Linked DNA regions of Homo sapiens: region 2 is linked to region 1. The links come from fine-mapping of genetic effects on gene expression. A gene starts in region 1. The other region holds a variant in brackets. All regions are shown on one strand. Distances are between the middles of the regions. Region 1 holds the start of PRDM16 (PR/SET domain 16). Region 2 overlaps PRDM16 (PR/SET domain 16).

Evidence for each region.
Region 2: its variant is fine-mapped to the expression of PRDM16 in spinal cord (GTEx, PIP above 0.99).

What each region holds. Positions count from the first base shown.
Region 1 is chr1:3,060,278-3,074,792 of GRCh38, forward strand. PRDM16 (PR/SET domain 16) reads left to right here and starts at 8,926. Exons shown (of 17, transcript NM_022114.4): 1 at 8,926-9,019. The coding sequence starts at 8,983. It overlaps LOC124903827 (translation initiation factor IF-2), which reads right to left. Exons shown (of 5, transcript XM_047436614.1): 1 at 9,937-14,515; 2 at 7,945-8,694; 3 at 7,060-7,771; 4 at 830-1,054; 5 at 1-6. The coding sequence starts at 11,586. The coding sequence ends at 8,671. PRDM16-DT (PRDM16 divergent transcript) reads right to left here and starts at 7,448. Exons shown (of 6, transcript NR_015440.1): 1 at 7,060-7,448; 2 at 3,935-4,025; 3 at 830-3,778; 4 at 224-327; 5 at 1-6. It also overlaps the pseudogene LOC100420339. RefSeq lists enhancers at 31-576, 7,245-7,819, 12,402-13,250.
Region 2 is chr1:3,415,094-3,429,608 of GRCh38, forward strand. PRDM16 (PR/SET domain 16) reads left to right here. Exons shown (of 17, transcript NM_022114.4): 11 at 2,735-2,904; 12 at 3,574-3,651; 13 at 10,488-10,657; 14 at 10,958-11,132. Among named protein-coding and RNA genes, the nearest start is that of ARHGEF16, 32 kb to the right of the region's middle. RefSeq lists enhancers at 23-719, 720-1,415, 5,571-6,071. The variant C/T (reference allele first, on the strand shown) is at 10,139.

The sequences.
Region 1 (14,515 bases):
TGGACCCTGGCAAAAAAGTGTATTGGTCATTGCCAGAAGGACACGGGTGACCAAGAGGCCAGAGCGCCCTCTGGGTGGCATGACTGTAGTGGGGCTTTCGTGGTGCTCACACTCCCAGCACCAGAAGAGCCCCAGGAAAGGGTCCCAGGCAGGGATCTCTCTGCAGAGGCACCTCTGCCACCCTGCACACCCCGGAGAGCGCCATCCCTGCAGTGTAAGTCACCTGGGGCTTTGTGGTCAGGGTGCTCTTCCTCTGAGTCCTGCTTCTGCCTCTAAGGACAGGTCCTGGCCTAGGTTGCTCAAGCCTCTGAGCATCAGTTTTCCCATCTGTAAGGTGGGCACAATCACAGCACCCACAACAGGACTGGGAAGGCCACACAGCCCCCAGTTGCAACCCAGGGGTGGGAAGTGAGCAGCACAATGCCCAGCACCCTGCCTGGTACAGCACCCAGGCCAGGGAGCCTGTGGGTGGACCAGCTTCTCTCCTAGAACTCTCGCTCTGCCATGGTCCCTGCCCCCGCCCCCCATCCTGCTGGGGACCCCTGAACAAGCCAGCTTCCTTTTCCAAACACAGTGCAAGGGGCCTGGGCAGCTGCTCACTGCTGTGTCCTCGTCACATGGTGCTAGCATTGGCTTACTGAACATAGGACGGCCCTCTGAGACCTGATGGATTATAGAGGTTACAGAGGGGTGGCTCGGCCTCAGACACTCAGCACAGTCCCTGCCCCAGGCTGCTGCCTCCACACCACAGCGTCCTGCAAGGTGGCCCTCATCTCCCTGGGTCTTCCCCTGGGCTGAAACTGCCTGTGGAAACCCCAGGGAAACCTACTGGTTCAGCTCTTCAGTCATTCAGCTGTGACTCATCCATTCTTTCACTGAGGACACAGCACAGCCCAGCCTTGGGCCAGGTGCTGGAGCTTCGGGTAAAATGCCTTGGAAGCTCCAGGTCTGATGGAGCAGACACCCTCCTGTAGATCTGATGGAGGAGATACCCTTCTGTTTAACTCATACCATAGACTCGAAGCTCCAGGAGCACGGAGCCTTGCAGCGCCTCCTGCATGAGGAAAGGAAGGAATGAGTGAACGGAAGGGAAGCGCGGACTTCAGTTGCCAGGAGACCAGCTGGCCCCTAGACATCTCCACCCGACTGGCAGCACCAGGGCAGGACAAGGTCAGGAGGGCAGGGCTTGACTGGGAGCTAGGGGCCCCTGAGCCAGTTAAGGCCTTTGTGGATGAGTGGAGCAGGTGGCTCCTGGGGCACCTGTCCTCACGCCTGGCCCCAACTTGCCCTGTGTCCAGCCAGGAGGTGGTTACCTTCTAGGGCTCCAGCTCAGAGCCTCTGGGAGTAGTGCTGGGTTCTGGGAGAGGAAGTGCAAGAGGGCAGGCAGGAGGGAGAAGGGCTCCCTGCCTCTCCAACAACCTGCAGGGCTCCAGGAACTGCAAGCCACTCATCGGGGTGCAGCTGCCCCACCACAGGGCCAGGCTCTGCCGCCACCGTTCTACCTTGGGAAATTGGACTCCCAGGAAGCTGGAGGGGCTGCCCGAGGGTCCCAGGAGACAGGAGGCAGAAGCTGAGCTTGAGTTCCTCCTGTCTCCCCACTCCCCCAGCTGTCTATGGGCCCTGGGGTCCCAGCACTGAAGGGTGGAGAGGGGAGGGAGGCTGACGGTGTGGGAGGGGTGGGTCACTGTTTCACCTCAGTAGAAGCCCTCCCCTCTTCCCTTGTGCAGCCTACGGGAGCTGCCCTGGGTGTTCCCCTTGTAATTCCACTGAAGTCATGGGGGAGGGGCTGCTGAAGGCTGGACCTGCCCTCTTCACCCCAGTCCCCAGGGCAGGCCCCACCTAGGTCCTCAAAGAGGTGACCTGTGGGGGCTGCAGGGGGCACTATTCTGCACACAGGGGTGTTCCTGCCACTCAGGCCCCTGCTTTGATGAGGAGGCCCAGGGACCCAAAGTGTGGGGGTGAGGGCGCCCCACAGCACGGCACCCGTGAGGGGACTGGAGTTCTTGAGTTACCTGTGCCTGGCTGCTCTCTCCAGCCCCCGGGGCATGGGCGCCGGTGTACTGGCGGCGGCGGGGGAGCAGGCAGCTCTTTCCCAGGAGGACGCCCGAGTGATTCCATCACCTTCGGGTCACTCTACAGAACTGGTCATTTTTTCCCTGCCTGGGGCGATCCTGGTCTCTGCTCTATTCTTGCCGGCTCTTTGAGCCGTGTCTCGACTGCCACCACCACTGCGATTATTGGTTTAGTAGAAAGCAAAGCTCGCAGGGATAGACCCTTGGGTGTCCCTATGGACACCCCACTCCCCTCGGGTCCTTCCCCGTAAGTCCTGCCCCAGGAGGTGGGAGGCCCAGAGGTGAGAAGGTCTGCTCAGACCATGGCCCCCTGCTTCCCACACCCCACCTCCTCCGTCTACACCTAGAATGGTAGTTTGTGCCGGATCCCGAAGCCTCAGCTCCCCAGGCCATGCTGCGGGGCCCCGCCCAGATGTGTGGGAACGCGGCTGCCGCCGGTGCCAAAAGACCTACGTCCTCGGAAGTGGGTACGGGGATGGCGTATTCCCTCCCGCGAGGTTCGTTGTACCTAGGGGAGCCTGGGTCTCCAGTCCTCCCCCGACCCGCTTCCCCGGCAGGCCCTGTCCCCCACCCCCAGCAGCCAGAGCGCCCGGGCAGCCCCTGCCTTCTCCCCAGATCCCCTCCACACTCTGCAGGATTTGGGGTGCTGGGTGGTGTCATCTCAGGTTCGAGTCTGCGCGAAACCTCCGGGCTTCTGGAGACCCAAAGGGACCTGAGAGGAAAGCCCAGGGCGGGCCAGACTCTGCGGTGGGGGTGGGAGGAGGGAGACCCCAGGGGCGGCGGAGTCGGCCCTCGCCCCTCCTCCACCCAGCGGGCGAGGAGAGTTCCGGGAAGGCCGGGGGAGGGGGAGCGAGGGGAGGAGACAGGGACGGGCCGGGCCGCCTCCAGAGCCGCCGTGGGGCGCGCCCTGTCCCGCACGCCTCTGACCCCCGCTCAGCAAACGAGGCCCACGGGGTGGGCGGCCTTGGGCCTCCTCCTGGCAGCTTCCACCCAGCCATTCTCTCCAGCCAGCCCTGCAATAAACTCCCGGAGAAGCACAGGCGCGCCTGGTCCCATTTCACAGACGAGGAAACTGAGGCGTGGAAAAGAAACCCACCGCAGCTCCGTCTCCACGGTTTCACCTGCGGGGTATTAATCTCTCAGGATGAAAGGCAAAATTTGGTTTTGAAGCTAAGAGGGCCGGCAGTGGGGGGCAGGGCGCGCTGCGGAGAGACGGCAGGAGCGGGCTTTGCAAGCCGAGTCTGGATTCCGGCGCGAGCCGATTCCGGGAACTGGCTTGGTGACCCGGCCGCCGGCCCGTGTCCCGGGCTCTGGGCGTTTGGGGACACGGAAGGCGGGCTCCCACCTGGCGACTCCCGGAATGTGGCCGCCGGGCCCGGAAGGCTACGAGGCTCGCCATTTTCGTTGCTGCCAGGGCCCCGCCCGCGCGCGGCCGAATTGGGATCTGAAGGCAGCGGCAGCGTCTACGCAAGCAGCGTTCTGGAGCGTCGCTCTGCCACCTTCCCGCGCGCAGTTCCGCGCGAGCCGCAGGACGCGGGCGCTGTGGGTAACGAAGTTGCTCCCGGTGTGCGCAGACCGGCGGCCCCGGGGTTGCGGGCGGCAGGAGGGACCGCCACTCCACGGCTGCGGGCGCGCGTGAACACACGGCTGAAGGTCATAGGCAGCGCATCCAGGCAACAGCATTCGTTGGCGGATTTTTAAAGGTTCTTAGATCAAGAGGGAAAGCGTGTGAAACCGATTCCGTTTATTGCCCCCAGCGGCGGGGGAGCTCCCCGTTGCAGACACCCAGCGGCTCGGCCACTGCAGCGTCCTGGCCCAGTATGGGCCGCACACGAGTAGGAGTCGTTGGGGGCTTCCTGCACCTTCTCAGTGAGCCCGGTTGGGCCTGGATTCGGCTCCCTCCTGGGCCCAACGGGAGGAGATCAAGGGAGTTCAGGTTCACAGTCTCAATCTCTTAAAACAAAACAAAACAAAAAACTCCGGATTGGGCCCTCGAAGTGCCCATGGGGCATCCAGATACTCCCGACATCTGCGCAGGAGAGCTGGGCACCCTGGTGGGGACGCCAGGACACAAAGCCGGGCAGAGGGTCTCCACTGGGGTGGCCACGGCATCGTGCAAGCCGGTCCCCGGAAGCTGCCCATCTGCAAGGGACAAGGACCCTCTTGCAATCAAAATAAGTCAGTTTCCACACATCTGGGGTTTGTTCGAAATCAGCGACATGGCTCACATTCCTAGGAAGTCCACTCCTCCCAGCTACCCACTCTGGGACCAGGAATCGGGTATCGGCTTTGGGAGGCCCCCACCTTTGAGCAGTGCAGGGAATGGAACCTTGCCACCACTGGGCCACAACTGGGACCTGTGTCCTGTCCTCTCCAAGTATTCTGGGGCACAAGAAGGTTTCCCAGGCCTCGGGTGAGAAGAAGGTTCAAAGGGGCCCCGAAATATTGACCCCAGGGTCTGGGGGGATTCCTGTAGCCCCAGTGTGCGGCTGAGGCATGATGCTGGAGGAAGCACCCACTTCGGGTCATTTCAGAGGTCTCAATAGGGAAGAAATGGCCTTTTCCATGACTTGTGTCTCCCACCCACCCCCACCATTCTAGACCAAACGCAGGCTCCTTCCAGCATTCAGCCCCCATCGAGTCCCCTGCGAGGTATAGGGTCCAAGCAGCCCTCCTCCATGTTCCCCTCTGTCTAGTGGGAGCCAAGTCAGCCATCCCCAAGGGCCCCTGTGGTCTCCTGGCTCCTGCTGCTCAAGTCTGGGGCAGGAGAACATGCCCGGGGAGCAAGAGCCTCATCCTGGCCTGACTCAGTGGCCCACGTATTGGGGGTGGGGTGAGCGCTGGCGATCTGGATCCCACCTGGGGCATTTCCAATCTCCCAGGAAAGCCCGTTGGTAAACCAGAGGCTGTGTGCTTCTTTGCTACCCGGAGGAACAAGGTGGGGGTGTGGAGTCAGTAAAACCTTGACCTGGAATTCAATAGAGCCTGAGGCCAAGTATCTGAAAACCCATGGCTAAGTTCAAAAAGCACAGAGGAGTGGGAGAGAAAGGGGTGAGGTGAGGGGAGAGAAAGTGGGAGAGAAAGAACCTGGTGAGGTGAGTCCATCTTGCCAGGTGCCATGCCTACCTCCTGTCCTGCACACACGGCCCGAAGCAGGGCTCCCTGGGGCCTGAGGGGCTGGGGGTAGGGGCAGCTGGGGCTGCTCTGACCCTGCCAGTTGGCATGGGGCACAAGGCCTGGCCAAGCGAAGGGGCCCTCTAGCCCTTGAATGCATTTGTAGATTCCGGGAGTGGAGGGCAGGCCGGCATGGTAGTTCTGCTACTCAATGGGCTTCTGGGGAACCCCTGGGGCTTGGGGGCCTCCTACTCGCTAATAAGATGCTTCCTCCAGCACGGCAGGACCAGCATTTCTGGCTCTCAAACCCGGCCTTTTCCCTAAGGAATTAACCTGGTCATGGGTCTCCAGCCGTTAGAAACACTGGGAGTCTGCAGGGCTCATGGAGAAATCGAGTTTCCATGGACTCCCTCTCTGCCCAGACCCCAGCAGAAGTTGGTGGTTAAAGCCCCGCTCTAGCCTCCAAGACCCCAGCTATGAAATTGGTTTTGGAACTCGACAGCAGCGTGCAGTTGTCCAGTGTAGGAGCCTCTATGTGGCCAACCCACACTCACTGTCCTTGGACGACCCAAGGAGGTCAGTAGGAATGAGCTTACAGCACTTACAATCCCAGCGCAGGGGCCCCAGGGCCTGGCATCAGCCTCAAGGCTCTGCAGAGCTAGACTTGGTTTGAAAATTGCCCTTAGACCTTTTAGTATCAACCTTTTCCCCACTGGGCCTACATTTGCCCTACCTGTTCTCCAAGCCCCCCAAAGCCCTTGCCAGGCAGGGACACAGAACTGGGCCCCAGGGAGGACTTGCATCTGATCTTCCCTGCTTCACCCTTTTTCCCCACGGGACTCCTCAATGCCTGACCTGCTCTCCGCTTCTAAGTCTGGCCACGCGGGGGCAGGGCCTGGCCAGGCCAGGATGCAACCTCGGCCAGGGCCATGGCCTTGGGGACAGCCTGCCTGGGCTCCTCGAGCAGGCTCGGGAGACACTGCCCCACTGGAGCCAGGGCTGCGTCAGTGCCTTGCAGGTAGGCAGCCCGGCTGTCTCCCTGGCGAGGCTTGACCGGCAGCTACCCCTTCCCAGGCAGATCCATGACCCCATCCCTACCCAACAGCCTGGTGGAGGGCAAGGACCAGATGGCACAGACCAGCTTGCTCCCATACCTCCTGCCCTTCTTCCCTAGGGGCTGGCAACAGGCCAGGGATGGCTGTCCTGTCCTAGCCTGGCCAGGGTTCTGAGAACCACCTCCTGAGCTGGAGGAGGAGGCAGGGAGAGGGCCTGAGAGAGTTGGGGCACCCGTAGAAGAAGGCCAGGACTGCACAACCTTGGCATCTGTTGGCTACCTCCAGGCCAGGGGCAAAGGAGGCCTCTGCTGGGCTGCAGGGTGAGGGTGGGGAAGGGACCCTCTCTGCAGGTGGGAGTGGTTCGCAGGCACCATAGTAACTTCCCCAGGCCTCCTCCCAAACCTGCAGAGGCTTCAGGCAGGAGCAAGGGGGACCTGGGTGCAGAGATATGGGAGTGACCTTGAGTCCTTTCTAGCCAGCAGCTCCAGCCAGGTTGGGCCCACCGTTGGGAACCTGCCCTTGGCGGGGTTTAGGCAAGACAGCGCCCGTGTTCCTGGGCTCCAGCACCTCCCACCCACTGGGGCGAGCAGGTTCAGAACCGGCCTTGGCGGTGCAAAGCTGCAGCGGTGCCCTAGTTGGCTAGGCAGATCAAGACCTCCAGAGCCGGGCCTGTAAACTGAGCTGTTCTCTGCCCCAACCCCTGTAGAAAGATGGTCAGGGTGTGGGGAGGGTGGGTAAAGGGGTCGATAGACCCTCGAAAGGACGGCAGGGAATGGGGCTGTGCCATTGCTCATGGCCCTTCTCTAGGCGACACTCACCTGGTGCCAGAAACAGCAGAGGTAGCGGCCAGTGAGCGCTTCCTCCATCCGGGGCTCGGGCGGCGAGCTGGCTGCAAGACTGGGCACCCTGGAGCCGTGGGAGCCTTGGGAGCCGAATCTGGGTTCGAATCTGAGCAGGGAAGCGGTGCCGACCGCGGAGGATCCAAGGCAGAAGGCCCAGCGCACCGCCGCCGCCAGCTCCTGCCCAACCCGGCTCCGCTGGGCTTTTCCTCTGGGGTGGCGCCGGCCCCGCGCCCCTCCCCATCCGGGGCGCCTCTGCTAGGACACCGGGGTCTCGGGGTTTCTCAGGGCTGCTGCGTTTCACCTCCTTTAACGCGGAGGCGCGGAGTTGCACGTGTGGGTCTCAGTGGAGCCGCCACAGGTCTTATTACACAACAAAGGGCAGGGAGGGCAAGGCCAGGAGCCTCGCGGGGCGGCGCAGAGACCCCGCATCGCGGGCGCGACCCCTGCCTCGGGCTCAGGCTGACTCTGCGGCAGCTCCAAGTCCCGTTGCCGGGCAGGACTTCGGTGCTCCGGAAGGGTGCGGGGCAGCAACCTGGCCAGGGCAGCGCCTCGGTTTCCTTCCAATTCATTCTCGATTCCCAGATACTCAGATGAGAAATCCGCACTCAGGCCGTCAGGCTCCTGGGCCCGGGCCACCCTGCCTGCGCTCAGCCCGGCCCCTCCGCCGCAGCGCCTCGGAGTTTGGGGGCTACAGGGGAAGAGGAAGCGTCTGGTCGGCTCCCGTCCGAGCTGCTCCACCTGCGCCGCTGGCCTTTCCGCCCGCTACGCACCTGGGCCCCGAGAGGCCAGAGGGGAGTGTCCCCAGTGGCCCGGGTCCCCGAAGGTGGCCCAGCTCGGGCGCTCGCGCAGCCGGGTACTCACCTTGGGGGCGCGGCGGCAGGAGAGCGCGGGCGGAGAGGTGCGGGCGCCCTGGGACGACCAGCCGAGGACGCCTGGTGTTTGGACGGCTGCCCCCGCGCTGTCCCCCCGTGCGAGGCGTGTTGGCCTCCGTGGCCTCGCGAGGGACCGAGGGCGGCGGGTCCGAGTGCCGCCCGCCGGCCTGGGCAGTGGCGGAGCGCGGAGCTGGCGGCGCCTCCGCTGTTGTTTTTGAGCCGCGAAGCCCGAAGCAGCAGCCGTTGGGTGGGGGCGAAGGGGAGGAGGCGGGGGCCGGGAGGCGCGAGGGGGGCGGTGGGGCCCGGAGGGGGCTTCGGAGGAGCCGGGTTCTGGCGCGCGAGCCCCGACGCCCCCTCCAGCGATCGCAGGGCGGGGACGGGGGCCGAGGGGAGAATGCAGGAGAAAAGCGGGCCGGGGCGACGGGGAACGCAAAGCTTTTAAATTAGTAATCAAACGCAGTAAAACGGAGCAAAACCAGCCCGGACTCGCGTCCGAACTATCGGCGCGTGTGCCCCGAGATCCAAGGAAGTCGTGTGGAAAACCGCAGCCGCCGCCCCATCTTCGGCCCCGGCTGGGGCGGGAGCAGCAGCGCGACGCGCCGCGACGCAGGGGCAGGGTGGGGGGATAGTCACCTCGCCTCCGGGGCCACCTGGGTCCTTTTAAAGTGTCCGGGGTGCGGGCCCCGGGCGGGAGCGCCGAACACGGAATGTTTTCTTAAAGGGCCAGTTCCGAGCTGCGCTGAAAAGGGGGGGGGGGAGAGGGGGGAGAGATAAGTGAGACGAAGACCGAGAAGGCCGAGGAGAGCCCCCCAATCCCGCGCCGAGGCGGCGGCGGCGGCGGCGGCGGCGCGACGATGAGGATGATGAATACATTGCAAAGTTTTTTTGGCCCCGGCGAGGGGTGTCAGATTGAGTGCTCTGTGCGCATGTGCGAAGGTGTCCAAACTGACAATGCTGGGGAGATGAAGATAGTGTGTGGCTGCTTCTGGACTCAAGGAGGAGGAGAGAGATTCCGCGAGCCGACACCATGCGATCCAAGGCGAGGGCGAGGAAGCTAGCCAAAAGTAAGTCTCCCGCGCTCGGCCGCGCCGCGCCGCCGGGGCCCGGGCCGCCGGGCCGGGGCGCCCGGGCCAGGGGTGCGCGTCGGGGCGCGGCCGGCGCGCCTGCGGCTCCGGGCCCCCGGCTCGGCCGCGCGGCCCGGGGGGCTGCTCCGCCTCCCGCGCTCCGGGGCGACCGGGCTCGGCGCGGAGGCTCGGGGCGCCCGGGCCGCGCGCTCCCCGAAGGCGCCGGCCCCCTCCCCGCGGAACCCCCTCCCCCCCCACCAGTGTCAGGCGCTCGGGCCCGGGAACCCGAGGCGCGCGGTGGGGGCCGGGGAGGGGGGCGGAGGGGGAGGGCCGGGGGTGGAGGGGAGCGAAAAGTGAAAGTTAGCGAAAAGTTGACGAAAGGGGAGAGCAACTTTTTCCTCCCCGCTCGCTCTCTCCCTCTCTCTCTCCGAGTGGCTCTCAGTCCTGGTCAAATCATATTCCGGGCTTTTGAAATAGTGGGCGCTAGAGCACCGCCTTTGGCGTCCGCCAGCCGGGCGCAGAGGAGGGAGACCCCGAGCCGGGGAGGGGCGGAGGAGGGGGCGCGGGCCGGCGCCCACCCGGCTCCGCGGGCGCAGGGGCAGGGGTGGCGACGGCGGGACAGCCGCAGCCACTTGGGGAGCAAAATGGAGACTTTTGCCCGGGCTGGGAACTGTGGTCGTGAAGTTTATCCCCGGCTGTGCCCCGCGTGGTGGAGGGCGCTCCTCTGGGACGCCGGCAGCCTGCGCGGGCCGCCGGGGCGACAGTGCCTCCGACAGGAGGGACCCACCCGGCCACCTCCCGACCCGCCGCTGCCGCCCTCGGGCCCGCGTGGACCCCTCTGTACCCGCTTGCCTGGCACAGCCGGGCCCGGCGGGGACAGAGCTGCCCCGGCCAGGCTGCCCGGTCCTCGGTCTTACTTTCTCTTTCGCTCCGTCTCGGCCGAGCCCCGGGCTCCGCGCGCCCCGCCTGCCGCCAGCCGGTCCTTGCCGCGGGCCGGGTGCTCCAGCCACCCGCGCCCTCGCCCGCCACAGCGCCTCCGAGCAGCCCGCGCGCACCCCGCAGCCCCGGTCGCCGGCGCCATCCGCGGTGAGGCGGGCGGGCAGGTGAGGACAGGCGGAGCCGCGGCCCGGCCAGCGCGGCTCCCGCAGCCCCGCCGAAGCCCCGGCTGCAGCGAAGCGGCCAGCGCCGCGCGGAGCGGAATCGGCGCCGCCTGCTCCCGCCGCCCCCTCCTCTGCAGGCCGCCCGCCCGCCCACCCGCAGAAGAGGCGCCCGGGCCGCTCCCCTCGAGGTCCCCGCCCGACCCACGCCGTTCCGTCCGCGCCTCCGGGGCCGGGTCCCTCCAGGCCGGCCTCGCAGCTCCCGGGGCCGAGCCCCCAAACGTGAGCCGGGTGCGCGCGGGACTCGCGGCGGTTTTCCGAAGCTCCGCTCCCTCGGCTCGGGGCCCGCCCGGCTCGTCCCAACAGCTGCCCCGCGGCCGTAGGCCCCGCGCTCTGTGCACCAGGGAAAAGCAGCTCCCGAGTTTGTGCCGGACGCTCCTGCGCCCCGCCATCGGCCGTTCCCGGCCCCTGGGTGAGGCGCCCCCTTCCCGCCGCGCTCCGCTGCCGGGTGCCCTCGGCCTCGGCCTCCCGTGACCTCTGACCCCTCTTGGTGCGAACAAGACCGGGCGTTTCGCCGCCGACGCGAAGGGGCTGTCTGTGCGCGGCGTTGCGGGCCCTCCGCGCGTGGGGTGTGCGTGTGCGTGTTCGGGTTCGGTTCTGTGTGTGCACCGCGGGCCTGCTCAGAGTCGGGACCACCGGGCTGCGTGTGGGCCGCCAGGTCAGGCCCTCGCCCAGGATGGGCCCTAAGCTGGAACGAGAAAGGGGAAACCGGCCGCGCTGACGCCGGGGCCTTCGCTGCAAGCGAGAGGCGGACTCGGCGCACCCGCGCGGCCCTGGAAACTTCCGAGAGGCCCCAGCTCTCCGCCGGCTCCACCTCTGCCAGGTGGGGAAGGTGGCCCGGGACCGGGTCCGCTCAGGACCAGAAGTGGTGCCTGGCAGCCATCTGGCCAGGAGGCCGGAGAGCCGGGCCCAGCGGGAGCGCCGAGCGCTGGCTTCCTTTTCCCGAGAGTCTTTAGTGAGGAAAAACCCCATGAGAGGTGACTGCCAGGCCTCGGCCCTCTGTCCACACTTGGCCGAGCGCTGGGAACCCCTCCTTCCAGGCTCCACAGCTGGGACCGCTTGTCCCAGGCCCCCCAAGGTGGCTGAGGCAGGTTCAGGATCACACTGCCTGCCCTGAGCAAGAAGGCAGGATCCGCTGAAGAATTTCATTTCATCAGGCGATATTTTAAGCAGATGTGAACTTCCCCGGGGACCATAGTCCATTACCCGAGTCAGAGGCGGTAGGGCCAGCACTCCAGCCAGCAGGTCCTCCCCTCCCCACAATGCTGACCAGGTCAGGGGACTGTGGGGTTGGGCAGGGGCAAGGTCATGGTTACCAGGTTGGTATTCAGGCTGGGCACAGAACAGCAACCAGGCCAGTGGAGGTGACCCCATGACCCAGCATTTCGGGGGCCACCGCCGAGTGTGCATCTGGAGGTGTAATTTCGTTTGTGTTTCCCTGGAGACCCCACTCCAAGCCTCAGTTCAGGTGGGTTAGTCCTCTGGATTGGGTCTTGTGAAGGGCCAAATGGTGGCGGCTCCGGGGGTGACCCGGGCTTCCAGCTGAGCTTTCCAAGGACAGAGGTGGCCACTGGGGCACCCAAGCCGGGGCTGTGGCTCAGCTGATGGGAAACCTACAGCCTCCTCCACCTGAGCCTGGGGGCCAGGAACAGAGTGAGGACAGTTCAGGGACAGGGTCCCCCCTACTGAAGCCAGGGCGGTAGGGCCGGTGGGGTAGGGGCTGCTGCAGCCCCACATTTACAAACTCAATGCTTAACAAAAGCTTATTGTTTCCAGGGCTGTTGTGAGCCAGGTGGGCAGGTGGGGGGTTAGCACCACCAAGGTGCTCTCTGGATCACCATCGCCCTCATAGCACAGCTGGGGGCCTCTGTGCAGGAGGAGGATGTGCCAGTCGGCACCCCCATCAGAGCTGCTCCTTGAGGCCTGATCCCCACCTAGGTGGCAGACCCCATGTCCTAGATGCCACATACCCCAGGGCTGGGGGAGTGTCCTCTCCACAAGTCCCATCTAGCCCCTGGGGTGGGGGAGCTGCAGCCCCCACTAGATGGGGACTGTGTGTGTCTTGCTCGTGTTTGAGGGTGATGCGTGTGGAAGGTGTGCTGGAGACAGGGTAGAGGTAAGCGGGGCTGGCGGCCCAGTTCACAGCCTCCTTCCTTCTTCGTAGAAACAGGCCAGGCTGGCTGGGCCCTCCCTTCTCCCACCCTCCCTGGGGCAGTTGGCCCCGTCCACCAGTCCCCTCCCCAGAGCCAGGACGGCAGCCTTCCCTCTGAAGGCCGGTTAGGGCAGCAGCGCCAGGACGTCCGGCGGGAATCCAGCGTCTTGCCCCGCTTCGGACGAAAACACAGAGGCTGCGGTGGAGGGGTGGAGTGCGGGGCTGGCCGCCAGGGCTTGGTGCCCCACGGCAGTGGACTGTGTGTCACCCACAGGCCCCCTCCCTCAGCCCCTGGCTGCGCAGGTGTGCCATGGCTCGGAAGCTGGCAGGAGGGGCTTGCCAAGCTGGCTTGTGGAGCAACTGCTGGGTGGGCTCCTTGGGGACAGGCACCGGCCATGCCTGGCTCGCCAACCACCAGACGCCCACTCGGGGGGTCCTCCTTGTCCTGTGAGCGGCTCTTCCAGAGCAGGTGCCAGCCCGACATCCTGGCCCCTCCTGGCCCCGAGGCTTCCTCGGCTCCCAAGTCCTCCTGTAGGCAGTGCGCAGGGCAGGGGACCAGGTCTGCCATTTCTGCCGGGAGGCTGGGTGAAGGGGACCCAGCAGCCAGGGGCTCCCCCCACCGGGCCCCTCAGGGGAGGTGAGGCTGGTGGCAGCTCGCTGGGCCGCTGTGGGCCCGATTAGCCCCCTGTTTTATTCAATTAGGAGGCAATTAGGGATCCTTGGGGGGCTTGGGCTGGTAATTAAGGTGATGTATAATTAGAGTTTCAACAAAAATTATCCGGGATTAAAAATCTTTTGAATAATTTCGTTTAAAATTTTCAAATAGCGTTAAATACAATTTATCAGGTTTTGAATCAAACCCGTGTAACGAGTCTTGGAAGCTGCAGCTCCCGTCGCCGGCGCGGGAGGACCAGGAGCAGCTCCGGCGACTTCCCCGTGCGGGAAGGAAACTTCGCGAGCGAAGCCAGCTGGCTGGGGCCTCGCCGCGGTGCAGCGGCGGCCGCGGGCTCAGAATCGAGCCACCGAGGGCTGCAGACGGCGTGGGCCGGGTCGGGGAGCGGGGCCTGGGGGACCCCGGGCCGGCCGGTAGTCTCGGCCGACTTCCCACTCCCCGCGCACAAAGTCGCGGCCAACTACCGCGGAGCAGCGCCCGCGTCCACACCGCGCAGCCTGGCGCCCCGACCCTGGCCCAGCGGGAGCGGCGCTCTCCCCTTCTAGAGCCCCAGCTTGGACCCCGGGGTCCCCTCCTCCTGGCCTCCCTTGCGGAGGAGGGCGGCCTCCGCGTCCCCAACCGCCGACCCTCGACCTCGTGCGGGACACCGTGGGCGCCAGGCCCCCCGCTTGCCTGGGTTCCCTGCGACATCCCGACCCGCGCCCCGAGAGACGCGGGAGCGCGCGCCGCCTGGGTTTAAGTAGGGGCTGTAGGGGGAGGGAAGACGGTGCAGAGAAACGGAGGCAGAGGGTGGGGGTCTGGCTTTCCAGGGTAGACCCGCCTGCCCAGTCTGATCCGCAGCCCCGGCCCCTGCCGGCAACCTCGGGAGACGGGCCGGGCTCCCTAGTGCACTTGGGGGACAGGACACCTCCTCCCTTCACTGACCCTGGGAAGACAGAGTGCAGGCGAGCAGGCACCACTTTTGAGAGTGAGAAACCCCAGACGCAGAGAGGTGGAGGAACTCTTGGGAGGGCACACAGCAGATTGAGGCTCCAGTGAAATTCAGTGGAATGAAGACCTCCAGGGCTTCTTATGTAGCATTCCCCTCCCCCACAGAGCACCACAGGCTGCCGTTAATTCCATAGGGTTTTTTCTGTGTGTGTGTGTGTGTGCGCGTGTGTGTGTGCGTGTCAGGGTTTAAGCATTTTCTCAAGGCCAATGCTCAACTTGTAGCAGGTCTGTTCTTAAAAAGCAGGCAGGACATCACGTGCGTCCAGCGTGTAAGTGACCTCACACCTGCAGGCTGGACTCCCGCTGGGCTCCGTCCCCCACAGCTCCTGCCCCTTCTGTGGGTGTTCTGTCCCCAAGGGCAGGCACAGAGGAGCAGAAACCTTGGTCGGGTGGCCTGGCCTGCACCCTCCACACTCCCTCGCTCACTGCCTTCATCCGGAGCAAATGCAGGAGGCTCAGGTTGGCCCGGGAGGTGTAGGACCTGCCCTTTGCCACCCCTCAGATCTGGAGGGGAATAACCACCA
Region 2 (14,515 bases), 350 kb after region 1:
ATGGAGCCAGGCCCCAGGGAGGTGGTGGGCAGGGGGTCTGGAAAGAGACCCAGAGAGCCCCCCAGTCCAGACAGGTGGGTGCAGACCCTGCCAGGCCTGGAGGTGCTCCTGCCTGCCCCTGAGGCCACATCCTGGGAGCAAAATAGCAGGTGGGCAGCATGGCCAGGGCAGAGTCTTCCCGACCTCCTGTCCCCTACTGACTTGGTCTCATTGCTGGGAGCCTGGCCCCTTCCGCAGCGCCATGGGCTGCACCTGGAGGGTCCTGAGGGTCGCACAGTGGGCCTGGCCCTGACAGACTGCAGACCAGACCGGGGCATTGTTCTCTTTCTCGGCCTTCCCCGCCGTGGACGGGCCCCCCACCTGGTTTGTGAAACCTGCGCCCAGGCTGAGTTCACAGCTAAACTTAGCGCCTCCCATTGTTTCCCCGGGGCCGTGGAGTTTGGTTAATAACTTCCCCTGATTTTCCTCGGGATGGGCTGGAAAGAGCCACGAGCCAGCCAGGCGCATCCTGCGTTTGTTTGTGCGGGGAGCGAGGCCGGGAATATCTGATCGGGCGGAGCAAGCCGGGCGGGAGAGGCCCACCCAGGCCCGAGGAAGGGAGCCCAGCGGGGGGCAGTTTCCATTGTCCCTCCTGCCCGCTGCCCCCACGGGCCTGCCACCCCCGCTGCCTGTCCCTGCAGCCCGGAGCCAGGAGGTGGGGGGCGGGAAGAGAGAGATGACTAATAAGTCACCAAATGGTCTAAGGTTGGGCTGTCACTTGGGCAGAAGGCGCCAGTTACTAAAGACCTCGACAAAGCCCAAGAGGCCATGCCTGTGGAAAGACCTCAGCCCTGCTGCTCCGGGCTGCGGAGGGGCTGGTGAGGCCCAGTTGATGGCTCAGGGAGCAAGGCAGCTTCCATCTGCCCATCGCTCATCACTCGTTCTCATCAGGATGAGAGCATGCCTGCCTCGCAGGGGCGGGAGAAGCCTGACCCCCACAGCCTGGGTGGGGCTGGAAGGGGCCAGAGGGGAGGCCTTGGCCACTGTGGACGGACACGAGTTTCTACTCGTTCGTTTCTTTCTGGGTATTTTTATCGTAACCAGTTCCCCAAATAGCAAAACGTCCCCACCACTGGCTCATGTGGTCTCTGGGAAGCATTTGTAGAAAGCCCTCTGCTCCCTACCAGCAGCAGCTGGATAAGTCCCTGGCAAGCAGGTCTCCGAAAAGCTGAGTGCCAGATGCCCGGCACTCGGACTCTGAGAGACCCCAGCCGCGTGATGGGATAGTTTTGTTTGCTAGTGGGCAGCCAGGGCTAGGGTCTTGCTGTAAATGGGCGGGTCACCTCTGTGGAGCTGGCTCTGAGCATTGCCCAGAGGCAGCGAGCCCTATATGAAGCCCCTTGATGACGCAGGTCCTCACCTGCCCTTCTCCTCACCCCCACACCCATTCCGTGGAGGCTGGGTGCCAAGGACCGGCACCCTGGCCAGTTCCTCCCAGTGACACCAGCACCTGGGGAACCCCAAGCTCTCCCTTCCCTCTGCATCTGTATCAGCTCCTGCCTCACCCTTGCCCTCCCTCCTCATCCCCTTCTCTGGGAGCTCCCAGGGGAGGCAGGCTATGAAAATACCTGTTTAGCAAAGGTGTCTGGAGGGCCCTGTGGGTCAGGCATTGGGCCCTGGGAGCACTGGCCCCACCTTCAGCAGGCTGGGTGTGTGGTGCCGAGGCCCGGGGTTTGTTCCCTGTTTTGCCTTTTGCTACCCCTCAGGGGATGATGAACACTCTTCCTTTTCAGCCCCTGTGCAGCCCCCTACAGGGCCTGGCACACAGCAGATATCACAGGGTGGCCCATCTCCTTCTCCACTGAGGTCAGCTCCAAATCTTCAAAGAGAAGGGGAGCTGGGAGAGGCAGGGCTGACACTGAGCAGCTCCATCAGCCCAGCCCTTCCCCTCTCCTGTCGCTATTGTCAGAGACCTCAGTGGGGCCAGGACAGTCTGGGATTCTGATCAGAGCTCTGCCCACCAATCCCATGCTTCCACTCTCCTAATCGAGCAAGCCCTGGGCATCTCCAGGGAGCAGAGAGGCAGCTCCTGTTGCCCATATCAAATTGCCCTGTGTCATGTGACATGTCACATTATTATTTTGAATATTTCCTTTGTGGGTTTAAGTCTTAAAGAGGCTGTTGAATTCCTTAGTACTTTGCCTGCAATTATGGCATGCTGCCACTTGGTGGCAGTGGTTCTGCAGGCCCACAATCTATGCTTTAAACGGAGATTCAGGTTGCTATTGTAATTTTTCAAGACTAAAAAATAAACTTTTTAATGTTAAACTAGATGTAATTCTGCATTTAACCCAAACTAGCCAACCAGAAGTGCTGGCCAGGAGTCAAGTCAGCTGGGCATTTTGCCGGCCTGGGTCAGATAAGGGGTAATCATAAACATCAGCTACCTGTATCACTCAGGTCCCGCCCAAACCGGGCAGTGAGGCTGGTTGCTAAAGATCAGTTTCAGCTCCTGCAGGAAAGACCTTAAACTACAAACGAGGGACTGGGACTCAGGGAAGGACAAGAGCAGGGCTGACTACAGAAAGGTGAAAAAATCCAACCCAGGGTCCAAGAAAATACTAGGAGACCATTGCTTCCAGTGCCCACCTGAGCACCCTAAGATATGCTGTTGTACAGAACCCCCAGCAGTGCGTGCCCCTGAAGACAGGTGAGAGTCAGCTGAGTCCATAACCTCCCACTCTTATGCCTACAGATGTCAGCCATAGAGACCATGACAGAGAAGCTGGAGAGCTTTGCAGCCATGAAGGCGGACTCGGGCAGCTCCCTGCAGCCCCTCCCCCACCACCCCTTCAACTTCCGGTCCCCACCCCCAACGCTCTCCGACCCCATCCTCAGGAAGGGCAAGGAGCGATACACGTGCAGGTGAGGGGCCCTTTGGTGCTGCTGGGACAGCCCTGGCGGGGCTCGAGTGCCACACCTGTGGCTGTGAACCTGTGCTTCCAGGAAAAACTCAGAGTCCCGGCCATAGGAAAGCACAGCACTGCAATCAGCTGGTTATCTGCTTGAGGTCATGCTTTGCAAATAAGTGACTTGGGTGGCCTCCCCTGCCTCACGCCATGCTGTGCTCTTGGGAGCTCAAGAATATGCAACCTCAGCCCAGCCTGAACTGGGAAGGCTGGGCCTGAGGTGTGCTGGTCAGTGACTAACCTCAGCGCTTGGAGGGATGGGAAGCCCAGTGCTACAGCCTCAGCCAATTTCTGCAGTGTCAGGATGACACCCTCCCGGCCACCCTCTGCTGGTGCAGGCCTGTCCAAGTCTGTTGGAGCCTGCCCTGTTCACCGCCAGACTGAGGGGCCGAGACGCTTCAGGGGGCAGGGGCTGCTCTGTCTACTACTGTGGCCCATGGCAGCCTGCTCTGCAACTGAGGCTGGGCTTCAGGGCCGTGGAAGGGACTGAAACTGGGATGCTGGGATGGGTCCACCTGTGCATCAGGTGTGAGACCCCGAGCATTAGCTTGAAACCATTTCTGGGAAATGGCCATGTAAGCCCACCCTAATCCTCCCTCACCCTCCCCACCTCCCTCCACCCCAGGTACTGTGGGAAGATCTTCCCCAGATCAGCCAATCTCACCAGACACCTGAGGACGCACACTGGGGAGCAGCCGTACAGGTAGGTGCTGCGTGGGCTGGGTGTGGGGGCGGGGCCGCCTGCCTCCGTGCACCGCTGACCCACTCCTAGGAGTAAGTATGCCATTCCCAGGGCTCCCTGCTGGAGTGAGCAGGCAGTGGGCAGGGCCGGGTGCTGAATTCTGGTCACTCTGGCCCTCCCCTCCTGGCCTCAGCAGGATGTTTGAGGATGAGGCAGGAGGTGCCCAGGAACCTTCTGGAAGGCATCTGCCTGGCTCTCAAAGATGTGAGGGAGCAGCTCTCCACCCACCCTAGGGTGTTCACTGGGGCAGGGGATCCTCATCAGAGCAGGGCTGACCAGAGCCAGGGCCCAGAGGGTCCACATGGGAGAAAACCTCAGCTTCCCCACACCCAGCCCAACTCCGTTCATCTCACGACGGCCATAGCTGCCCCCACACCCCCACTTCTGGTGGGCCAGGGAGTGGGCCAAAGGCAGAGTGAGACTCCGTGCAAATGCGGGTCCCCACCCCCCACTTGGAGCCCACTGAGGGATTCCACGGGGTCCCGGGGACAGCCTGGATGGGAAGCGGTGCGTCTGCTTCCAGGATCCCCCCGTGCTCCTCTCATCTGAGGAGCCGGCTGGCACCTGCAGTGAAGCAGTCACACAGCTCATCGGGATGGGGGAGGCATTGAATTTGGGGCTCACAACAGCCTCCCAACAGGCTTGTCATCCCATTTCAAAGATGAGGGGCCCGAGGCTCAGAGATGCCCCATGAATCACCGGGGTCAGTGCCTGGGAGTGGGCATTTTAAGCGAGAGCCCCAGACAATGGTAACTGGGAGGCGAATGGGGAAACGCTGGTTTTCTGCCAAGGCTGGTTTAGTGACACATGCAGGGTGTGTCTGTTCACAGAGGCCATTGGGGATAAAGAGTGCTTCACACGGCTTAAGTTGACAGCATAAGATTTCTGTCCTCTGGCCACACAGAGCTAGAGGGGCCACATGATAGTGCAGGCACTGGGGACTCAGTCTGTGTCTCCATCCCTGGGGAAGGAGACCAGCTGAGGCACCTGTGCATGTCGTGGTCACTGACCCCCACTCTGAGACAGAGCAAGCATCCCCGGCTGCCCCAGGGCTGTGTCCCAACTCGCAGGGTAAATGACAGCTTATACCACTTACGGGTCATCTGTTCAGCGCTCACAGCCCTCCCCAATTCACAGGCCCCCCCTTACCCACCCTTCAAAAAATAGTGACTTACAACTTAACAAAGGCTAGCAGCAGAAAGATTTATTTGGTCTGGTCCCCTCCCAGAAAATGAGCTGTGTGTTTTTTCTGTAATGAGAGCCGACTTCTGGACAGCGTTGTGTGCTAAGAGCCCCTAGAGGGTCGGGGTGGTGTTTATAGAAGAATTTAATTATCATTGATTTCTTTTGCTCTCTCCAATCTGTGAGTTTCGACTTTGGTAACAATAATTGCTTTGCAAGTTTGTGTTGCAAATCCTGACTTTATCTGGCTCAAGGCAGGTCTGTGCCGAGGGGTTTGGAGCGTGTAGCTTTCCTTTTGATACCACTGGTGGTTTCTGGACTGGCTTTGATAATCAGAAGGATTTTAAATTGGAGGAGGGAAAGTGCCGGCCATCCCCAGAAGCCTGCCAAGAGGAGCTCAACCCCCCATGCCCGCCCCAGTGTGAGCCCCTTTCCGGTGCCAGCACCCACGTGTGTGCCCGCCGCATGTGCATATGTGTGTGCCCTGGAGAGGTCGGGCTGACGCAGCCCCGCGCAAGCAGGAGGAAGCAGGCTTCTCATGGGTTGCCTGGAGTGATAGGGTAATCAAACCAGATGACATTGGAAGCCTCTTCCGTTTAAGTCCTTGCCTCAGATGACCTGAAATCGTTCAGAATGTGTTTCAAAGCCCTGAGGTAGGGAACGTAGAGCCTTTGGTGCACCAAATATGTTTCTTGGAGGTAACTTGGCCCCTAGCTTCTCCTGGCCTAGAGGTCTTTGAGTGAAGCGGGAAGGTGAGATTGAGTTAATGGCAGTCTTATTTCTTAAAAAAAAAGTTAAGCATATAGGCTTTGCGGGATTTGGGTTGGAGAAGCATGAAAATTGAACTGGGAGTGGGGAGAGGGGCTGCTCCTTGGTCTTCGTCCTGACAGCCGGCCCGGGGGTCTCTCTGGGAGGCTGCCCAGTGGAGCCTGGAGTCACAGCCTGGATGCGAGCAGGGCTGCCCGGGACTCCTGCTGGGACCGAGATTCCTGCCTCAGGGCTGCTGACTCCCTAGTCTGCCGTGTGCTTCCATCATCTCCCCAGGCTCCATCCTGCCTTCTGTGTGAAGCTGGAGCGTGCAAGGGAGGCACAGTTGTGCTTCCATCGGGGGCTGCACGCGGCCCGTGCATGTCCTTTCTTTTTTAGTTGTATTTTTACGGCTGGGTTTCAAAATCTCTTCTTTCTTCCTCTTCCCTCACTTTTACAGTCACCAAAAGCAGATCCCCCTGTAGTGGCTGCAGGAGACCTCACTGGATCCTAGGAAGGATGCCGCTGCCCAGTGCTCAGGGGCTCGGGGGCCCTGGCCACCCCCCCTGACCTGCCCATACTCTGTTGTTCCCCTGCCAATGGCTTCTCTGGGAGTGCAGCAGGCACGGTCACAGCAAGGTCCTCTCAAGGCCCTCCGCATTGCACCAGGGCCAGGCTACCCTGCACGTTCTCCTTCCTTTTGGAGCTCACGGGCGTGTTATTTTACGCAGTGAGACCATCAATTTCACTGGCCGCTTGTCAGCTTATTTACAACGCAGACCCCAGCTGCTCGGAGAACTCTGCTCCCTCGCAGCCCTGGGCTCACGGCTCCCCTAAATTTCAAATGGACTTCTCTGTCTGGGCCATTTATTTAGATTAGAAGCAAGAGAGGGCCACGTTCAGGGCTCTCTGCAACCAAATTGAACGCACAGCCCTGTTCGTGGCTCTCCCCGGCCCCAGAGCTTCACACAAGGGACTTGCTCTCCAGTTTTATGAACAAGCTTCTTTTCCAATCCCATTTCTTACCTCGGATCCACAATTGCTAGGGTTTATGCAAGAGCCATTAGGTGGACTTTCTGCAAAAGTCTCTGCATTTCCAAAGAAACCAGGAACTGAATGAGCCGTGTTTGAGCACACATGCAGACAGACAGGCAGACACACAGGCAGGCGGACAGACAGGAAGATAGGCAGGCAAACAGACAGGAAGACAGACAGGCAGGCAGACAGACAGGCAGGCGGACAGACAGGAAGACAGACAGGCAGGCGGACAGACAGGCAGACAGACAGACAGGCAAACAGGCAGGAAGGCAGACAGACAGGTAGATGGACAGATGGATGGACAGACAGGCAGACAGACAGGCAGGGCAGACAAGCAGGAAGGAAGATAGGCAGGTGGACAGACAGATGGACAGACAGGCAGGCAGACAGGCAGACAGACAGGCAGGGCAGACAGGCAGGAAGGCAGATAGATAGATAGGTAGGCAGACAGACAGATGGACAGACAGGCAGACAGACAGGCAGGGCAGACAGGCAAGAAGGCAGACAGACAGGCAGGTGGACAGACAGATGGACAGACAGGCAGGCAGACAGACAGGCAGACAGACAAGCAGATGGACAGGCAGGAAGGCAGATAGACAGACTGGCAAGCAGGCAGACTGGCAGGCAGACAGACAGTCAGGCAGGCAGACAGATTGGGCTGCCTCAACATGCCAGAGGGGCACATGGCCCCAGCTGGGTGGGAAGCCTCTGGCTGGGCAGAGCCTGAATGCTCAGACTGGCAGGTGCTTTGCATCCGGGCTGGAGACGCAGAGTCCAGTGTGTCCTTTCTCAGCAGTCAGTCAGCCTCAAAAGCATGGCGGTCCCAGGGCCAGGCACCACCATTCCAGTCTAAGGATGTGTCAGGGTGGGGGATGTGAGAAAATGCATTGGAGGGTGTAAAATCCCTCCTTTCTGGGAGATTGTGTGGGACACGTCGGGTAGGGGGGCACCCAAGCATCTCCAACCCTGCTGCCGAAAGGGCTCCATCCTCGGCCTTATTCTTGTGTGAGTTCACAGGCCGAGTCAAACAAAACTGCAGCGCCGCCCAGGGCAGGCTTTGTGGATGGCCAGTCCAAGCCAGGGCGCTGCCTGTCACTGGGCTGTGGGAGGAGACGCTGGGACCCGGGTGCCCGGAGGCAGCTCAGCTGACCCGGGCAGGAGCAGGGGCTCCCAGAGAAGAAGCCCACAGGCCAGGCCCCTGGGATCAGGAGCAGAGAAGGCTGAGGGTCACTTCGGGGAGCTCAGGGACTTCGATCACCAATGCTTCTTTTCCTGTCTACTGTTGAAGAGGCCAGAGTGAGCCTGGCCTCCGGCAAAGGTTGGAAGGTTCAGGAATTGAGTGGATGAAGCCTTAGGGCAGCACCAGGGAAGTTTGCTGGGACGAAGTGGGATGGGGATATGCCTCGGCCAGGCGTGGGAGAGGAGTGCCCTTCTCCCAGGACTGCCTCCCGTTCTCTAGGGGACCCATTTTCAGACTTGCTAGGTTTTACCAGGCAGCCTGGGGAGTTGGGGGAGACTCGCAGGCTCTGAGATTCCAAGGACAGTTTCTCACGGCCGCAGCCCCTGCACGTGGGGAATGCTGAGCTCCTGGGCCCGGCAGCAGCACCCGGAAGGTGTGGGACTGAAGCTTCCTGCCTTGGGGAGGCCCCTGCGGGTGTGTTGATGGCAGGTCAGACTCCCTCGCCAGGCTTTTGTGATAGCAAACACCAGCCCAGGCCCCTCCTGTACAGGGCAGCACCGTGCCGAGAAGGCCGAGCCACACAGCCCCTCCCGGTCTGGGAGGCCAGGACTCCCGAGTGTCACCAGGCACGTCCCCATCCATGTGACAAGGGCATGTGACCAGTATGCTGCTCTGGAGCGGGCCACCGGCACCGGTCGGGGCGGGGTGGGGCCTCTCGGAGTCCTGTCCTCTGTGGGAACGAAGGCCACTGTGCTTAGAACAGCCACACCCACTCCGGGTGAACAAACCCTGCCCCATCCTGGTGCCTCCACAGAGGCTCCCACAGAGGCCCTGGCCTGGTCTCCAGCTGCTACCAGGCCCCCCCGGCCAGGATCCTGCTGCAGTGGGTAGACTTTCTGTGTGCTGTGCCATGGGCATCATGGAGCTTGCTTTGTTTTCAAAATATGAAAACGCATGATCATATAAACAGAATGTTCAAGTGCGTGTGTGCCTGTGGGATCAGATGAGCACCGCTGCGGGCGTTCTGATGACCAAGAGCACACACAAGTGTGCACACACAGGCATGGCACACACGCACATGCCAAGCACCCACGTGCAACTGAAAACCATGCAGTCAGGGTTCCCTTCACCGTCGCCCAGCCCAGCCGGGTGCCTCTCAGTAAGCCAGTCCCAGCCCCCCGCCGGATGCCCCCCAGGGAGGAGGCTGTCTTCACAGAGGCAGCGCACGTGCATCTACAGAGCTCATGGGGTTCCTCCTTAGCTCATCCCCAGCTCCCCCTCTTCGTTTCAGGCATGATTTTCTTGCTGCTCAATGCACATGTCGCTCAGGCCCCCTAGTTCTCAGCCCCGCTCTCTAAAAATGGGAGAGAACAACCCTCCCTTTCCCTGCCTGCAGGGTCACCACGTGTGGCTGTGAAGGTCACTCCCAGCCCAAGGGCCCCACACTGAGGGGAACCCTCCACACGCAGCCCTCCTCGATCGCTCATTATGACGACTTTCCAGCCGCAAGGGGCCTTGCTCTGATAAACTCAGGGTGTTAGAGTCCTGCTCTGCCTGATGCCGTGGAGGCCAGATGGAGGAAGGGGGTCTCATCCCAACTTCCCCACGTGCACGGTGCAGGCCGGCAGCAGCCCTGCCCACCCTGGGGGAATAAAGATAAACCGAGCCCGGGAGCTGGCAGTGCCCAAAGGGGCCAGTGTGGTCTTTGTGTCCTTAATAGAGGAGGCAGCCAACAAGTGGCAACATCCAGGGCAGCCCCCAAGCCCTCCATGAATGGACTGGCAAACTGAGGCTCCAAGTGAGGTGGGGCCTGCCCAGGGGCCCCCAGCCACCTCGAGGGGTGGAGGAGGAAGGTCACAGGGAGCTGGTCTGGGAGCTGGTCTGTGGAGCCCCTCCGGCTGGGAAACTGGCCTTGCCGAGTGTCTTTCCATGGAGCAAGGCCGCCCTCTGGAGGCTGCAAGGAGCATGTCGCCCTCCGGCTGCAGACCTGCCGGCCCCGCGGCCTGGGGGCCAGGGAGACCCAGACAACAGAGGGCAGGAGACGCCGGAGGGTCGGGCGCACCGCCTGCCCAGGGGACACGGGGCACACTCCAGGGGGATCCACCAGCCAGCCACAGAACAGTAGGAGGGTGAACGCCTGCTTGCTTTTTTTTTTTTTTTTTTTTGAGATGGAGTCTCGCTCTGTCGCCCAGGCTGGAGTGCGGTGGCGTGATCTTGGCTCACTGCAAGCTCCGCCTCCCGGGTTCACGCCATTCTCCTGCCTCAGCCTCCAGAGTAGCTGGGACTACAGGCGCCCACCAC[C/T]ACGACTGGCTGATTTTTTTGTATTTTTAGTAGAGACGGGGTTTCACCATGTCAGCCAGGATGGTCTCGATCTCCTGACCTCGTGATCCACCCGCCTTGGCCTCCCAAAGTGCTGTGATTATAGGCGTGAACCCCTGCTTCTTGAAGCCGGGGCTGTTTCTAGGGACAGCTTCCCCAGGATGCCTTTGGCTCTGCAGCTGGGAGATCCAGCAACCTCCGGGACACGGCGGGGCAAAGCTGTGCACGGGGCACGGGGCAGGGGCGCGGGCTCCCTTCCCCCCACCCTCTGTGGCCCGGCCTGCCATGCAGAGCCGGGGCCTGCACTGAGGAGCGCGTGTGCCCCTTCCAGGTGTAAGTACTGCGACCGCTCCTTCAGCATCTCTTCGAACCTCCAGCGGCACGTCCGGAACATCCACAACAAGGAGAAGCCTTTCAAGTGCCACCTGTGCAACCGCTGCTTCGGGCAGCAGACCAACCTGGACCGGCACCTCAAGAAGCACGAGCACGAGAACGCACCAGGTGGGCCACGCGGGGTGGGGCAGCCCCCAGAGCACCCACACGGGCAGGCCCCACAGAGGGGGAGGGGGAACAGCAGGGGAGTGGGCGCCGGGCAGGGAAGAGGGCCACAGACTACCCCTCAGGAAGCCAACAGGCACCCCTCAAACCGTGGTCATTAAAGAGAACCTCGTGCTCTCCGGTGTCCCTAAGAAACCTGCCTCCCTAACAGCACCCCAGGTGTACCCCGTTCGCGGTTGGTTTGCCCCACGGAGGGAGGGGTCCAGCGAGAGGCCGCCCCCTGATGCTCCCGCCCCTCCGCAGTGAGCCAGCACCCCGGGGTCCTCACGAACCACCTGGGGACCAGCGCGTCCTCTCCCACCTCAGAGTCGGACAACCACGCACTTTTAGACGAGAAAGAAGACTCTTATTTCTCGGAAATCAGAAACTTTATTGCCAATAGTGAGATGAACCAAGCATCAACGCGAACAGAGAAACGGTAAGAAAACTATCGCGGGCTGGGGAAAGTCTGGACCCGGCCAACAGCCCTGCGTGGCCACCCTCAGAGGACATGCACCTCCACCCCAGCACCAGCCCCTAACACATCCAGATAGGCGCAGTGGGGGCCTCACCACAGAGGGTGAGGCCCCTGGGCTCTGGGAACCTGGGGAAGCTGCGCTGTCTGCCTCAGTTCCTCCACCTGGAGAGTCATGAGAGTAAGCACCCCTGGGCTTATGACCTCACTGTTAACATATGTGTGTGCAAAACACTAGCCAGGTGACCGAGCCGGGCACAAGTTCAGCTGTGCCGCTGACACTCAAGGACATTTTGATTTAATCTGAGGCACTAAAGATTTCCAAACCAAAATGCTGCACCTTTATACACACATGTACACACATACACATGTGTACACATGCACGCACACACATGCACACATAGGTATGCCCCGTGTACATGTACACATTCACATGCACATATGCACACAGAGATGCACGTTTGTATACATGTGTATACATATGCCATTGATGAATCCTCACTTGTTCCTCACCTGGCCTTGCTCTGGGAGCTGCAGTTTAGGGGATCGTGCCTGGGGACAGGGCAGGACGTGCCTGGGGACAGGGCTGTGGTCTGGGCATGGGCAGTCCAGGAACTGTGTGCTCTGCCCTTTGCGTGCAGGTCCCCAAATACGGGCATGCACGTGCACTCATGCACACACGTGTACATAACATGTGCGTGCATAAACATGCCTGCCTAGATCTACACACACGCATATGCACACATGCAAGTACATGCACATGGACAGTGTGTGCACATACACATGCGTGACGGACAGCCGTGTGCGTACACCTAGAGACACATGTACACGCATGGGCGCACGTGCGTCTAGACACACAGCAGCAGAACGATGGTGGAATTCGGATCCAGGAATGTCGGCGCATGCTCTGTGCAACCTGGGATACCAGGGCTCCGTAGGCCTCACTTACTCTGGGGGAGCCTTCAGACACCCCAGCGGGGCTGCTTCCTTTGTGAAAGCTAACACCAGCCAGCTGGCAGAGAACCGAAGGTGTTCCAAACTCCAAGAGGCCTGAGGGGGTGATCCCCTGATTCTACAGAAGGGAAAACGGGGCCCACAGAAGTGGGGTGTCTTGCTCAGGCCCAGAACCTAGAGCCAGATCCCAAGCTTTTACCGCACTGGCCATGGGCGGTCTAAGGCTCTGTACCCACAGGGCCCAGCTCACTCCCCACCACCTCCAGTAGGTGAAGAAGAAGCCCCCTGAGACCCCAGCTCCCTCAGAGCCCATCCCCTCCTCCAGGGCAGGGCTGCGTCTTCCTGTCATTGCTTCTAGGAGAGTGGGGGTACCTGGGAAAGAGGCATCCAAGCAATAAACACAGGAGGCAGTTGGACACTGGCTCTGGCAAAGCCACGTTCCAAATCTGTGCCCCTCCTAGGAAGGTGAGCTCACCTGTAGGGCCCTCAGCATCTTCATCCATCAGAGCCCAGAGCGGGCTCAGAGGAAGGGGCGGGGGGAGAAGCTGGCTCTGGGCCGTGGTCCCAAAAGCCTCACCTCCACCCCAGTGCAACCCCACCTACTCTGCAGCCCCCAGGCTGTCCCGGCATTCCCCAGTGGGCTCCAGGAACGATGGCCTGAAAGGAACTCTGCCCTGGCCACGCTGAGACAGCCGCATGGGAGCTGTTCGTGTTCCCTGCAGCTGCGTGTCAGACCCATGAGCGCCACAGGCCAGGCCTTACCTACGCCCCACAGCCCCGTCCCCAGGCACAATCCCCTAAGCTGCAGCTCCCAGAGTAAGGCCAGGCGAGGAACAAGTGAGGATTCATCAATGGCATCCTTGCCGGGGTGGGCCCAGGACCAGGAGCGTGTGCGGAGGCTGAACCACCTGGAGGACAGCAAGGCCCCCCTACCCCGAGCTAGGGTGCAGCCCGGCCGCACTGCAGGAGACCCACCAGGACCCCGAGCTAGGGTGCAGCCCGGCCGCACTGCAGGAGACCCACCAGGACCCCGAGCTAGGGTGCAGCCCGGCCGCGCTGCAGGAGACCCACCAGGACCCCGAGCTAGGGTGCAGCCCGGCCGCACTGCAGGAGACCCACCAGGACAGAAGGCTGTCTCTAAGAGAAAGAGATGTGGCCGGGCCTCCCCCTCGCCTATGGCAAGGCCCACAGTGCCCTGCTTCTCACAGCCCTAGGGGTGGGGACGAGGGAGGCTCTCCACACCTCAGAACATACGGGCACAGCCGGCCTCAGACGGACTCAGACTCAGGCCCTCGGAAGACCCGTCCTGCTGAGGCAAGGTCCCCGGGTCCAGCTGGCCTGGTCCTGAGAGCCCCTGCGTCACTGACGAAAATGAGAACAGGGCAAGGTGGACATAGGCAGCCAGTCCCTGGGGTGGCGGGAACGTTCCCTGGGCCTCCTGCAGAACCAGCTCCTGCCCTCCGCCATCAGGAAGGATCCAGTTCTGTCAGGAGTCCTGGTCCTGCAGCCCCGTGAACCCCTGAGTTGAATCATGTCCCTCAGCATTCCCAGGTGGAAGTCCCAGCCCCCGGTACCTCAGAATGGGACTCTCTTAGGAGATAAGGTCTTTAAGGAGGGATTAAGCAGAGGCCACACTGGGTAGAGTGGGCCCCAATCCAGCGGCACTGACGGCCTCTTAAAAAGGGGGCACTTGGAGAAAATCACGCAGGGGAGAAGGCCAAGGGAAAATGGAGACAGAGGTCAGGGTGATGCGCCTCCCAGCCAAGGGTCACCTAAGAGGGACAAAGGTCACCAAGGATGGCCAAGGAGGGCCAAGGGTCACATAGGAGGGCCGAAGAGTGCCAAGGTTTGCCAAGGATGGCCAAAGAGGGCCGGCAGCAGCGGGAGCTGGAGAGAGACCAGGGACAGATTCTCCCCCAGAGTCTTGGAAGGAACCCGGCCTGCCCTCGCCTGGATCTTGGACTTCTGGCCTCAGAGCTGTGAAAGCGTCCACGGCTGTTGCTTCAGGCCCCCATTCTGTGGGGCTTGGTTTGGGCAGCTCTGGGAAACTGACTGTCCTCCCTGTTGGAGCCAAACCAGCCACTGGGCCCTATTCTGTGTCCGTGCCGGATGCTCCGCTCCCCAACACTAAAAAGCAAATACTCTGTGCATGGGGGGTGTGCAGCAGACATAAAGAGGGCAAAGTCCCTGCCCCCAGCTGGTGGGAAGCCCATGCAAACCCACGTGGGGCCACCAGATGAGATCTCACAGCACATGCCCATGTGATGAGCCTGGGCTCTCACCCTGCGCCATCTCATCCCGTCCTCAGAGTGGACAGGGAGGGGTATGTCCTCGTGTCATCGAGAGGGCACAGGCCCCAAAGACAGAACCCCACCCGAGGGCACCTCACCAAC